Linked DNA regions of Homo sapiens: region 2 is linked to region 1. The links come from fine-mapping of genetic effects on gene expression. A gene starts in region 1. The other region holds a variant in brackets. All regions are shown on one strand. Distances are between the middles of the regions. Region 1 holds the start of RBSN (rabenosyn, RAB effector). Region 2 overlaps NR2C2 (nuclear receptor subfamily 2 group C member 2).

Evidence for each region.
Region 2: its variant is fine-mapped to the expression of RBSN in whole blood (TOPMed, PIP above 0.99).

The regions. Positions count from the first base shown.
Region 1 is chr3:15,096,062-15,101,568 of GRCh38, forward strand. RBSN (rabenosyn, RAB effector) reads right to left here and starts at 3,087. Exons shown (of 14, transcript NM_022340.4): 1 at 2,974-3,087; 2 at 2,058-2,213; 3 at 474-649; 4 at 1-227. The coding sequence starts at 59. RefSeq lists a silencer at 1,875-1,954 and enhancers at 2,292-3,156, 3,045-3,174.
Region 2 is chr3:14,981,452-14,986,719 of GRCh38, forward strand. The region is part of intron 1 of NR2C2 (nuclear receptor subfamily 2 group C member 2); the gene reads left to right. Among named protein-coding and RNA genes, the nearest start is that of FGD5-AS1, 36 kb to the left of the region's middle. The variant G/A (reference allele first, on the strand shown) is at 2,599.

The DNA.
Region 1 (5,507 bases):
AGGCACAGAGGGCAGAGGAAGCCCTCCCTCACTTCCCCTGGGTCGTCCAGAGAAGCCATGGCAGTGCCGCTCTCAACCCTAGGAAGGCAGGAATCTCATGCCAAGAGTCAGCTTGATTCCTCCCAAGGAACCATGGTTCCCGCAGCATTAGCTTAAGCAGCACACAGATGGTGAGGAAGTGGCTTCATGGCCCTGGATGAGGTTTCCTCTCTGGAGTAGGAGGAGCCCTAAGAAAGAAAAGAAGAAGGGAAAAAAGCCAATTCAGGCAAACTGGTAGCAATTGAGGATTTTCTTCATTCTTTTCACAGTTCAATGGGGTACTTAATGTTTATTCAGTGCAAGTTTGAGAAAACAAACTCTTTCTCAAATCCTTAGACCAAGCAAGCTGCAAAACCTAAAATGTGAAAACATCACTGGAGAACAAAAACTCAATGAAGTGGGAAGCACAGATTCTTGAAATAAGCAAACAATACCTTGGCAATTCTCTTACATTCATTCCAAATGATCCAACTTCATAATTCATATGCCACTTCAGCCACTGGGGGAATGTCTGAAGTACTTATCAACAAGCAGAAGTTTTTACTTGATGCTCTTTACCTTGATTGTTTATTCAACCACATATAGTAAGTTCTTGATACTTGTAAGACACCTGTGTTAGAAATGCAAAGATGAAAAAGATATAGTATCTGCCATAAAAACATACAAAAAATCAAAAATCCTAACATCAGTTAAAGAGAAACAATAGAAACCTACTAGTCAAAAAGAAAAAATCTATTTTATATTTGTAGAGCACTTATCTCTAATGGGCGTACTATATTTTCCTTTTTAAGAGACAGCATCTTGCTCTGTCACCCAGTGAGCTATAATTGCTCACAACAGCCTCGACCTTCTCGGTTCAAGTGATCCTCCTGCCTCAGCCTCCTAAGAAGCTGGGACTACAGGAGTATGCCACCACACCCAGCTAGTTTTTAAATTATTTATAGAGACAGGTTCTTGCTATGTTTCCCAGGCAGGTCTCTAACTCCTGGCCTCAGGCAATCCTCCTGCCTGAGCCCCCCCAAACTGCTGAGATTACAGATGTGAGCCACTGCACCCTGACAGATCTTATAAGCCATTAAGTGACAGTTAAGTAGCAAACCTGATGTTCTCACTGCTTCAAAAATAAAAGGCTGGCCAGGCATGGTGGCTCAAGCCTGTAATCCCAGCACTTTGGGAGGCCAAGGCAGGCGGATCACCTGAGGTCAGGAGTTCGAGACCAGCCTGGCCAATATGGTGAAACCCTATCTCTACTAAAAATACAAAAATTTGCCGGGTGTGGTGGTAGGCGCCTGTAATCCCAGCTAGTGGGGGTACTGAGGCAGGAGAACTGCTTGAACCCAGGAGGCGGAAGTTGCAGTGAGCCGAGATCATGCCATTGCACTCCAGCCTGGGCAACAAGAGCGAAACTCCATCTCAAAAAAGTAAATAAATAAATAAATAAATAAATAAATTGATTTGGGGCCTAAACACTTCAGGGCTTAATAAGTTACATTCTCTTTCTTACTGGCTCATGGCAAAGTCACTTCCAATGTCACCTCATCAAGACACCCAGTCACAAGAGAAATTGAGACAAAACCATTCCACAAAAGCAGAGAAATTTCTCCCCAAGAACCTGGGGATACAAGCCACAGTATATAGTGAGGGGAGATGTGTGACCCTCAGCTTTGGATGGACTGTAGAAGACCACCGAGGAGGGACTGCCTGGTCCTCAAAGCTGAAGGGTGGCAGCAACTCAGAAAATAAACAAATGAGACACCAGGTCCCTATTTTTTCCCTCTAGTTAAGAAACCCAGTGACTTCATAACTTTTCCACTGGAATATAGCAGCCCTAGGTCTGGCCTGTTCCCTCCCCAGCCAGTGGTTCATCTGATGCTGACTCTGACAGCTCCCTTTCTTCCCATGCACTCACCCCTAACGACCACAAATAACACAAAGCCCACCACATCCATGCCACACAACCACCCTTCACGCCTCAGCCCAAACCCAAACCTCACTTCCTCAAAAGAAATGCCTCTTACTCAGAGCATCAGAATGGACTTCTCCTTCACAGCACTCATCTCAATTTATAACCGCAGGTACATACGTGAAGTGACCAAGTAAGACTGTAAAATCTGGGAGGGCACAGACTCTATATGTTTTCCACTTCGCCGTCTCCCCAGGGTTTAGCACAGTACCTGGCACACACAATGAAGCAGCACAATAAAGCTCCATGAATGAACGAAGAAATGAATGAACTCCAAAATCATATAACTAAGCATACACCATAAAGAAATCTAACACAACCACCGAATTGGACCCCACAACCATAACTGAACACATAAGCAAGCCCCTCGCACTCTAAATCACGTAAAAAGTAAAAAAAATAAAAATAAAAAAAATAAATATAGCTACATGTTCTGCAGCCGTACATCCAGCATGAATGTCACCCCGCCACATGCCGCATCGACGACACATCCCACAGCCGCACTCAACCCGGCCTCACGATCGCAACCACAACCCACATAACTAACATGATTATACACACATCGCATGACCACACACAACACGAACGACTCAATCCCGTGAAGCAGACATGACAACGTCACACATCGCACAGACACCACACAAAACACTCCGAACATCTCCACACGAACTCAGAATACAAACGCTTCAGCTTTACACAACCAGAGAATCAAACACAACCGCTCGGGAGACAAGCACCCACCCACTCCACCCACAGCTGCACAACCAAACCCAAGTGTATACGCCCCGCGTAACCGCACAACCACACAGAGCCCAATCATCAAAGGCACACACAAGCGAAACGCACGGCCTGAAAGCCCCATCTCCCACCTCTCACGTCACACCCACCACAACCACACACGGCCCGCCCGTCTCCGTTCTGGAGGAGTCGTGTCCCCGCCCCCCAGACTGGGCCTGACCCTCTGTATGTACCCTGCCGGGCTCCTGCGGGCACCCAGGTTTGTCCCCCCCTTCAGGCCCGGGCTCTGGGCCTCCACCGTCCGTCACTCAGCCGCAGCCGCCATCTCCATCGGTCGCTCGGAACTCGGCAGGTGCGCCTGCGGCGGCGACGAAACCGGAAGACAAGCTGGTAGACGCCTGTCGAGCGCCGAGTCTTCGAGGGCGCGAAAAGGGCGGATACGGATTCGAATAGTGGAGGGCGGGCCGGCGGCTTCTGCGCAGGCGCTTTCCGAACGAGGGAGGGGATGGTGGGGAGCGGAGAGAAAGTGGGGCTCGGTAATTTTGTGCGGTTCTTACGTCCCGAATTCGAACTAATAGCGCGTCAAAGCCAGCCAATGGCTCTGCACCGCCTTGTACAGGTGGGAAAGCTGAGACCAGTAGATCTTTGGCTCTTGACCAAAGTGCACAAAGAATAAGGCAGCCAAGGAATCAAAGTTCCTGAGAGCTAGAGACAGAAAAAATATTCAGGGGACGTGGAGGCGATGGAAAGTCCAAGAATAGAACCACATGAGAGTGGAGACTTGGTATGAGAAGGTGTATCCCGGGGTGTACAGCATGGCCAAGCCTGTGGAAAAGATGGCATTTTCAAAAGGCAGGACGATTGATCAGCCAGGACCTACCCCGTGCCTACGCTGTGCTGGGTACCACGGGGTATAGAGAGGCAAAACCTCATCCCAGTCCCGGAGACCTATTTGCTTTGTGCCCTGCACACGTTCTGGACCTTAGCAATAGCCAGCCTCTAGGAGCAAGAGCTGCAGAGAACGATGGGACGATGGGACGATCCTGGGCCTCCGTTTACATCCCTGCAGTGTTACTGGCCCCCTTTTACAGAAGTAAAATGGGGATGATAATGATAGTCTCCGCTTCACAGTGTTGTGAAGATTGAGGTAATTGCACGGTAGGTAGGTAGGTAGGAGGGTGTCCTGCATATTGGCTTTGCCCATCTCACTTTCCCTGCCTCCAAAAAGTCTTCCCCACCTGGTCTCTGGACAGGAGCACTGAGCCTCCATCACCTTCCATTTAAGGACATGGGGCTCCGGACTTGGAGAGCATTGAGTTTTTGGAAAGCAATCACCAGTGAAAGGGCAGTGAACTAGGGGTCTAGAGATCTGGGTTCTAGCCCTGGCTGTACGTTACTTTGTGGCTTTGAGCAGGTCCTTTCCCCTTTCTTCGCCTGAGTTCTCTCATCTGTACAAAAGAAATTGGCTCCAGTGACTTAGCCTTTTCTCTCAATCTGATGGCCAATTTTTTTTTAACGTTACAACATCTGCAGGAGCGAATAATGACTTCCCTTTGTTTACTGATGGAGACAAGGAAGAGGCTTCCTAACCTGTCAGAAGCAAAGCAACATGCCAAGCTCCCCGTCTCCATCACTAGCTTCTGCCTTAGGTCCCAAAAGCCAGGACTTTGGGAGTAAAACCACCCTTTTGAAAGTCTGAAGCCACCGAGGTCCCAAAACGAGCCACACTTACAGGCAGGACTATGTTTTGGGTAGGGCAATGAACGTTTATTAAACCATCATGATTTTTGCTTGTCATTTTATCATTTACAAAAAACATATTTGGTCGGGCGCGGTGGCTCACGCCTGTAATCCCAGCACTTTGGGAGGCCGAGGTGGGCAGATAACTTGAGGTCAGGAGTTCAAGACCAGCCTGGCCAACATGGTGAAACTCTGTCTCTACCAAACATATAAAACATTAGTCGAGTGTGGTGTCGCTCGCCTGTAATCCCAGCTACTCAGGAGGTTGAGGCAGAAGAATTGCTTGAACCCAGGAGGCAGAGTTTGCAGGGAGCCAAGATTGTCCCACTGCACTCCAGCCTGGGCAACAAAGTGAAACTCCACCTCAAAAAAAAAAAAAAAAAAGAAAGAAAAGAAAAGAAAAAAATATCATATTCATCATTTCATTTGCTCAAAAAAGCAATAGCTATGTGGCCTCAACTTGTAAGTTAATTCTGGAAATCACAGTGGATTGGGCACTGCTCTTGATATTGTTTCTTTTTTTTCTTTTTTCTTTTTTTTTTTTTTTTTTTTTTGAGGCAGAGTCTCACTCTGTCCCCCAGGCTGGAGTGCAGTGGCGTGATCTCAGCTCACTGCAAGCTCCGCCTCCCAGGTTTATGCCATTCTCCTGCCTCAGCCTCCCGAGTAGCTGGGACTACAGGCACCCGCCACCACGCCCGGCTAATTTTTTGTATTTTTAGTAGGGACAGGGTTTCACTGTGTTAGCCAGGATGGTCTCAATCTCCTGACCTCGTGATCCATCCGCCTCGGCCTCCCAAAGTGCTCGGATTACAGGCGTGAGCCACCGCGCCTGGCCGATACTGTTAATGATAATGACAAAGACCTTCCTATATGCTTCACACTTCATCAAAAGTACTTTCTTTAATCCTTTAGGCAACTCTATGACTATTTCCAGTTTGATAATAATAAAAATGACTAATATTTACTGAGGGATTTGCACATGCCAGACACTGTTCTATGTGCTTTCCATATCTTAACTCATTTCATT
Region 2 (5,268 bases), 110 kb before region 1:
AATTAGCCAGGTGTGGTGGTGGGCGCCTGTACTCCCAGCTACGTGGGAGACTGAGGCAGGAGAATGGCATGAACCCAGGAGGTGGAGCTTGCAGTTAGCCGAGATCCCGCCACTGCACTCCATCCTGGGCGACAGAGCGAGGCTCTGTCTCAAAAAAAAAAAAAAAAAAAAAGAGTATTGATTCACATGATCACAAGGTGAAGTCCCACAGTAGGCCATCTGCAAGCTGAGGAGCAAGGAAGTCAGTCCGAGTCCCAAGTCCTCAAAAGTAGGGAGGCCAACAGTGCAGCCTTCAGTCGGTGGCCAAAGGCCTGAGAGCCCCTGGCAGGCCACTGGTATAGGTCCAAGAGTCTGAAAGCTGAAAAACTTGGAGTTCGATGTTCGAGGGCAGGAAGCATCCAGCACAGGAGAAAGATGGAGGCCAGAAGACATAGGCAGTCTAGTCCTTCCATGTTCCTCTGTACGCTTTTATCCTAGCTGGGCTGGCAGCTAACTAGATGGTGCTTTCTCAGATTGAGGGTGGGTCTGCCTCTCCTAGTCCACTGACTCAAATGTTAATCTCGTTTGGCAACACCCTCACAAACACACCCAGGAATAATACTTTACATCCTTCAGTCCAATCAGGTTGACACTTAATATCAACATCACACTGTCGCCCAGGCTATAGTACAACGACAGGGTTGTAGCTCACTGCAGCCTCACTCTTGGGCTCAAGCAGTCCTTCCACCTCACCCTTCCAAGTAGCTAGGACTACAGGTGTGCGCCACCATACCCAGCTATTTATTTACTTACTTAGTATTGTAGAGATGGGTTCTTGCTATGTTGCCCAGAGTGGTCTGCAACTCCTGGGCTCAAGCAGTTGTGAGCCACTGTGCCCATTCTAAATTTTTAAATTAGCTTGTTAGGGTTATACACATATGGAAACAAAAACCTGCTGACTGCTGACTTTTCAGAGTTGGAATTGCAAATACTTAAATGAATCAATTTAGAGAGAGTTGATCTCTTCATCATATTGAGTCTTCCGATCCATCATGGAAAATCTTTCAATTTATTTAAGTTTTCTTTGATTTTTTTTCTGCAAAAATTAAGCACGTCTTTATTTCCCAATGTTTTATGTTCTATGATGCTATTTATAAATATCTTATTGAAATTTTATTTTCTCTCACTGGTATATAGAAATGTAAATGATTTTGTTTATAGATTTTTTTAACAATCTTGCTCTTACGAATTCTAATAAATTCATTTAGATTTTTATGTTATCTATGATTTAATGACAGTCTTATCTTTTTCTTTCTAATCCTTATGTTTTTGTCTTGACTTATTCTGGCAGAGAGCTCCAGTACAGTGTTGAATGGAAGTGTTGATAGCAGGCATCCTTGCCTTGTTCCTCATCTTAAAAGGAATGATTTCAACAATTTGCTATGAGCCTTTATTCGATTAAGGACATTGGAATAAAAGTTGTTATATTCAGCAAATACTGAATTTTATCAAATGCTATTTTTAAAAATTTTTTTAATTTTTAATTTTGTGAATACATAGTAGGTGTATATATTTGTAGGGTGCATGAGATATTTTGGTACAAGTATACAATGCATAATAATTACATCAGGGTAAATGGGATATCCATTACCTCAAGCATTCATCATTTCTTTGTGTTATGAACATTCCAGTTGTACTCCCTCAGTTATACTGAAATGTACAACTTATTGCGGACTGTAATTACGCTGTAGTGCTATCAAATATTAGATCTTATTTATTGTATCTAACTATATTTTGTACCCATTAACCATCCCCGCCACTACCCTTCCTAGCCTCGGATAACCATCATTCCATTCTCTATCTCCATGAGTTCGATTGTCAGATGCTCTTTTTTTTTATGATCTGAGATGATCATATGATTTCTCTTTTTTGATCAGGTAATGTGAATTAGCTTGACTTTGTAATATTAAACCCATCTTGTATTCTGCAGTTAATCTCAACTTGATAGGTTAATCTGGATTATACTCTTTATACACACACACACACACACACACACACACACACATTCTTAGTTTGCTAACATTTTGTTTAGGGATTTTGCATCTGTGTTCATGAGTGAGATTAACTTTTAATTTTTCTTAAATTTATGCTAGCCTCATAAAATGAGTTGGGAGAAGGTTCCCTTTTCTCCTCCCTCCTATAATAATGTATATAAAATGAGAATTATTTGGTCCTTAAATGCTTATAGAACACACCAGTAAAACTGTTGGTGCCTGGAAAAATTTTTAACTACTGATAGAATTTCTTTAATGGTTAAGACTATTCGGATTTTTTAGTTGTGATTGACTCAGTTTTAATAAGTTGTACCTTCTTCAAAGAATTTGTTCATTTTGTCTGAGTTTTCAAATTTATTGGCATCTAGTTTTTAGAACATCCTTGTTTTGTATTTTTTTATTATTATATTTTTTTATTTTTGAGATGGAGTTTCACTCCTGTTGCCAAGGTTGGAGTGCAATGGCGCGATCTTGGCTCACTGCAACCTCCACCTCCCGGGTTCAAGCAGTTCTCCTGCCTCAGCCTCCCGAGTAGCTGGGATTACAGGCATGAGCCACCACGCCT[G/A]GCTAATTTTGTATTTTTAGTAGAGATGGGATTTCTCCATGTTGGTCAGGCTGGTCTCGAACTCCCGACCTCAGGTGATCCACCTGCCTCAGCCTCCCAAAGTGCTGGGATTACAGGCGTGAGCCACCATGCCTGGCCTTGTTTTCTATTTTTAATGTTTGAAGTATCTCCAGTTATAGTCTCCTTTGCAATCCTAGTATTATTTGTCATCTCTCTTTTTTTCCCTGGTCATTTTCACCAGAGTTGTTTTATCACTGATTAATTTGTCTTTATTATTTTCTTCCTTCTACTTTCTTTGCACCTATTTTGCTATTCTTTTTATAAATTTTTAGGATAGATACTCAGCTTATTGATATCTCAGCCTTTCTTCTTTTCTAATATAAGCATTAGGCTGTATATTGTCTTCTGAGTATAGCTCTAGCCACATCTATCCCTAGGCAACCACTGATCTTCTAATTGTTTTAGATGGATTTGCGTTTTCTAGAATTTTCTATTAAAGAAATCATGTGTCCACTTTTTTTGTCTTGCTTCTTTCATTTAGCGAAGTTATTTGAGACTCATCCGTATTGTTGCATATATCAGTATTTAATTCCTTTTTACGTTGTATCCATTGTATAGATATGCTTAATCCATTCACCTGTTGATGGACATTTGGGTTACTTCCAGTTTTTGACTATTACAACTAAAGTTGCTGTGAACATTTGTGTATGTCTTTGTGAGAACATATGCTTTTCTTTTTCTTGGGTAGATAGCTAGGAGTGGAATTGCTGGATCATATGGTGGTTTTTTTTTTTAAAGAGACTGCCAAATTGTTTTCCAAAGTCATTGTATGAGTTCATATTCCTGCTTGCAGTGCAGGAGAGTTCTAGTTGCCCTACATCCTTGCCAACTCTTAATATTGTCAGTCTTTTTACTCTTAGGCATTCTAATAGATGTGTACTAGCTCTTAATTGTAATTTTAATTTGCATTTCTCTGATGACTAATAATGTTGAACATCTTTTCATGTGATTATTTGCCATCCATACATCATCTTTGATGAAGTGTTTTATCAAATCTTTTGCCTATTATTAAAATTGAGTTATTTCTTTTCTTGAGTTTTGGGAGTTCTTTATATATTCTGGATAAGATACATGTCCTGTATGAGCTATATGGTTTGCAAATGTTTTTCTCCCAATCTATGGCTTATATTTTCATTATCTTGGCAGAGTCTCTTGAAGAATAGATTTTTTTATTTTGATAGTGGTTGTTTTAAATTTTTATGAATCATGCTTTTAATGTCATATTTTAAAATCTTCGCCTAATCCAAGGTCACATTTTTCTCCTGTGTTTTCACTAAAAGTTTTATAGCTCTAGGTTTTACATCTGTGATTACCTTTTTGTTACGTTTTAATTTAATCACAATGTAATCAGAGGATCTGATCTTTATGATACTGATTCTTTGAAATTGGCTTAATTTATTTTTAGTTTATGTTTTCTTCCAGAATTTTTGTTAAGTATTTACATCCATGTTTATGTAGCTATAGAAATATATAGGTTTTTAAAATTTAAACTAAATGGAATCACACTGGTTATGATGTTCTGAAAGCTGATTCTTTTAACTGTCTCAGATTTAGAGATACACATAATTCCTTTTTACTCTCATATTTTATAGATTAGAGCTATATTTATTTAGCTACTCCTCTAAGATGTGCATTTAAGTTTGCACATTGAAGTATTTTCCAATTAGATGCACATTTAAGTTTTTTCCAGATTTTCTCAAGCATAAATAGTACAGTGATGGACATCTTTATATATGCCTCCTTGGGCTCATATGTGGGAGTATCTCTGTAGACTAGAAGTAGAATTTGAAATTAAAAGCTATCTGGGTCAAAGTGTGTCTTCTAAGGGTTTTTCTTTTTTTTCCCAACAGTTTTTTAACAGTCACATAACTTCATATGCAAGAAGTAGCACCATTAACTAGATCAGTTATTAATTCAGCAGGTATGCATCGAGTACATACTGTGAGAACCTTCCTCTTAGGGGTTTCCAATTCCTTCAGACTCAGTGCCCCCTTTTTAAACAGTATTTTTTTAAAGACCCTTTTACTGTACCAAGGTGATACTCATAGAAAATAAAAGCATTCATATGCAAATAACTTACAAAAATCAATATATAATAATAATTATATTCAGGAGAAATAAAAGGAAAGCAGCCTATTATGAAATAATGTGTATTTCATGTAAATGCTTAGGAATAACTACCAAAGATGATATGACAAGTCACATACTTCTTAAGTAAGTACATACTTAAATAAGGGTACTAAGAAGATACAATTGTTTTGTAGATGAAATGTAGAGTCAGCTGGAATAAATGTTAAATGGAATTAATGTTAGAATAAGTGAGACTAGACTTACTTATGATAAAAACGGTTGACAGGAGGAGTTATTAAGAAGGAGAAAATTGAGGAAGGATGATGTCCTTGCAAAAGATCCATACCTTATGTGGAAGTGTTGTGCCAAAATGATTTCTTACGGTATGTCTTGCCACAGAGTAATGACATTCTGTCATAGAGAACATCTCCTTTCTTGAAATCTGTGTCTGAGGTATACCTTTAGTGTCTGATACTTTAAAAAAGACCTTGGAAAGCATATCCTTTTATTGGTCACAGAAAATAGAGAATTAGAAAATGA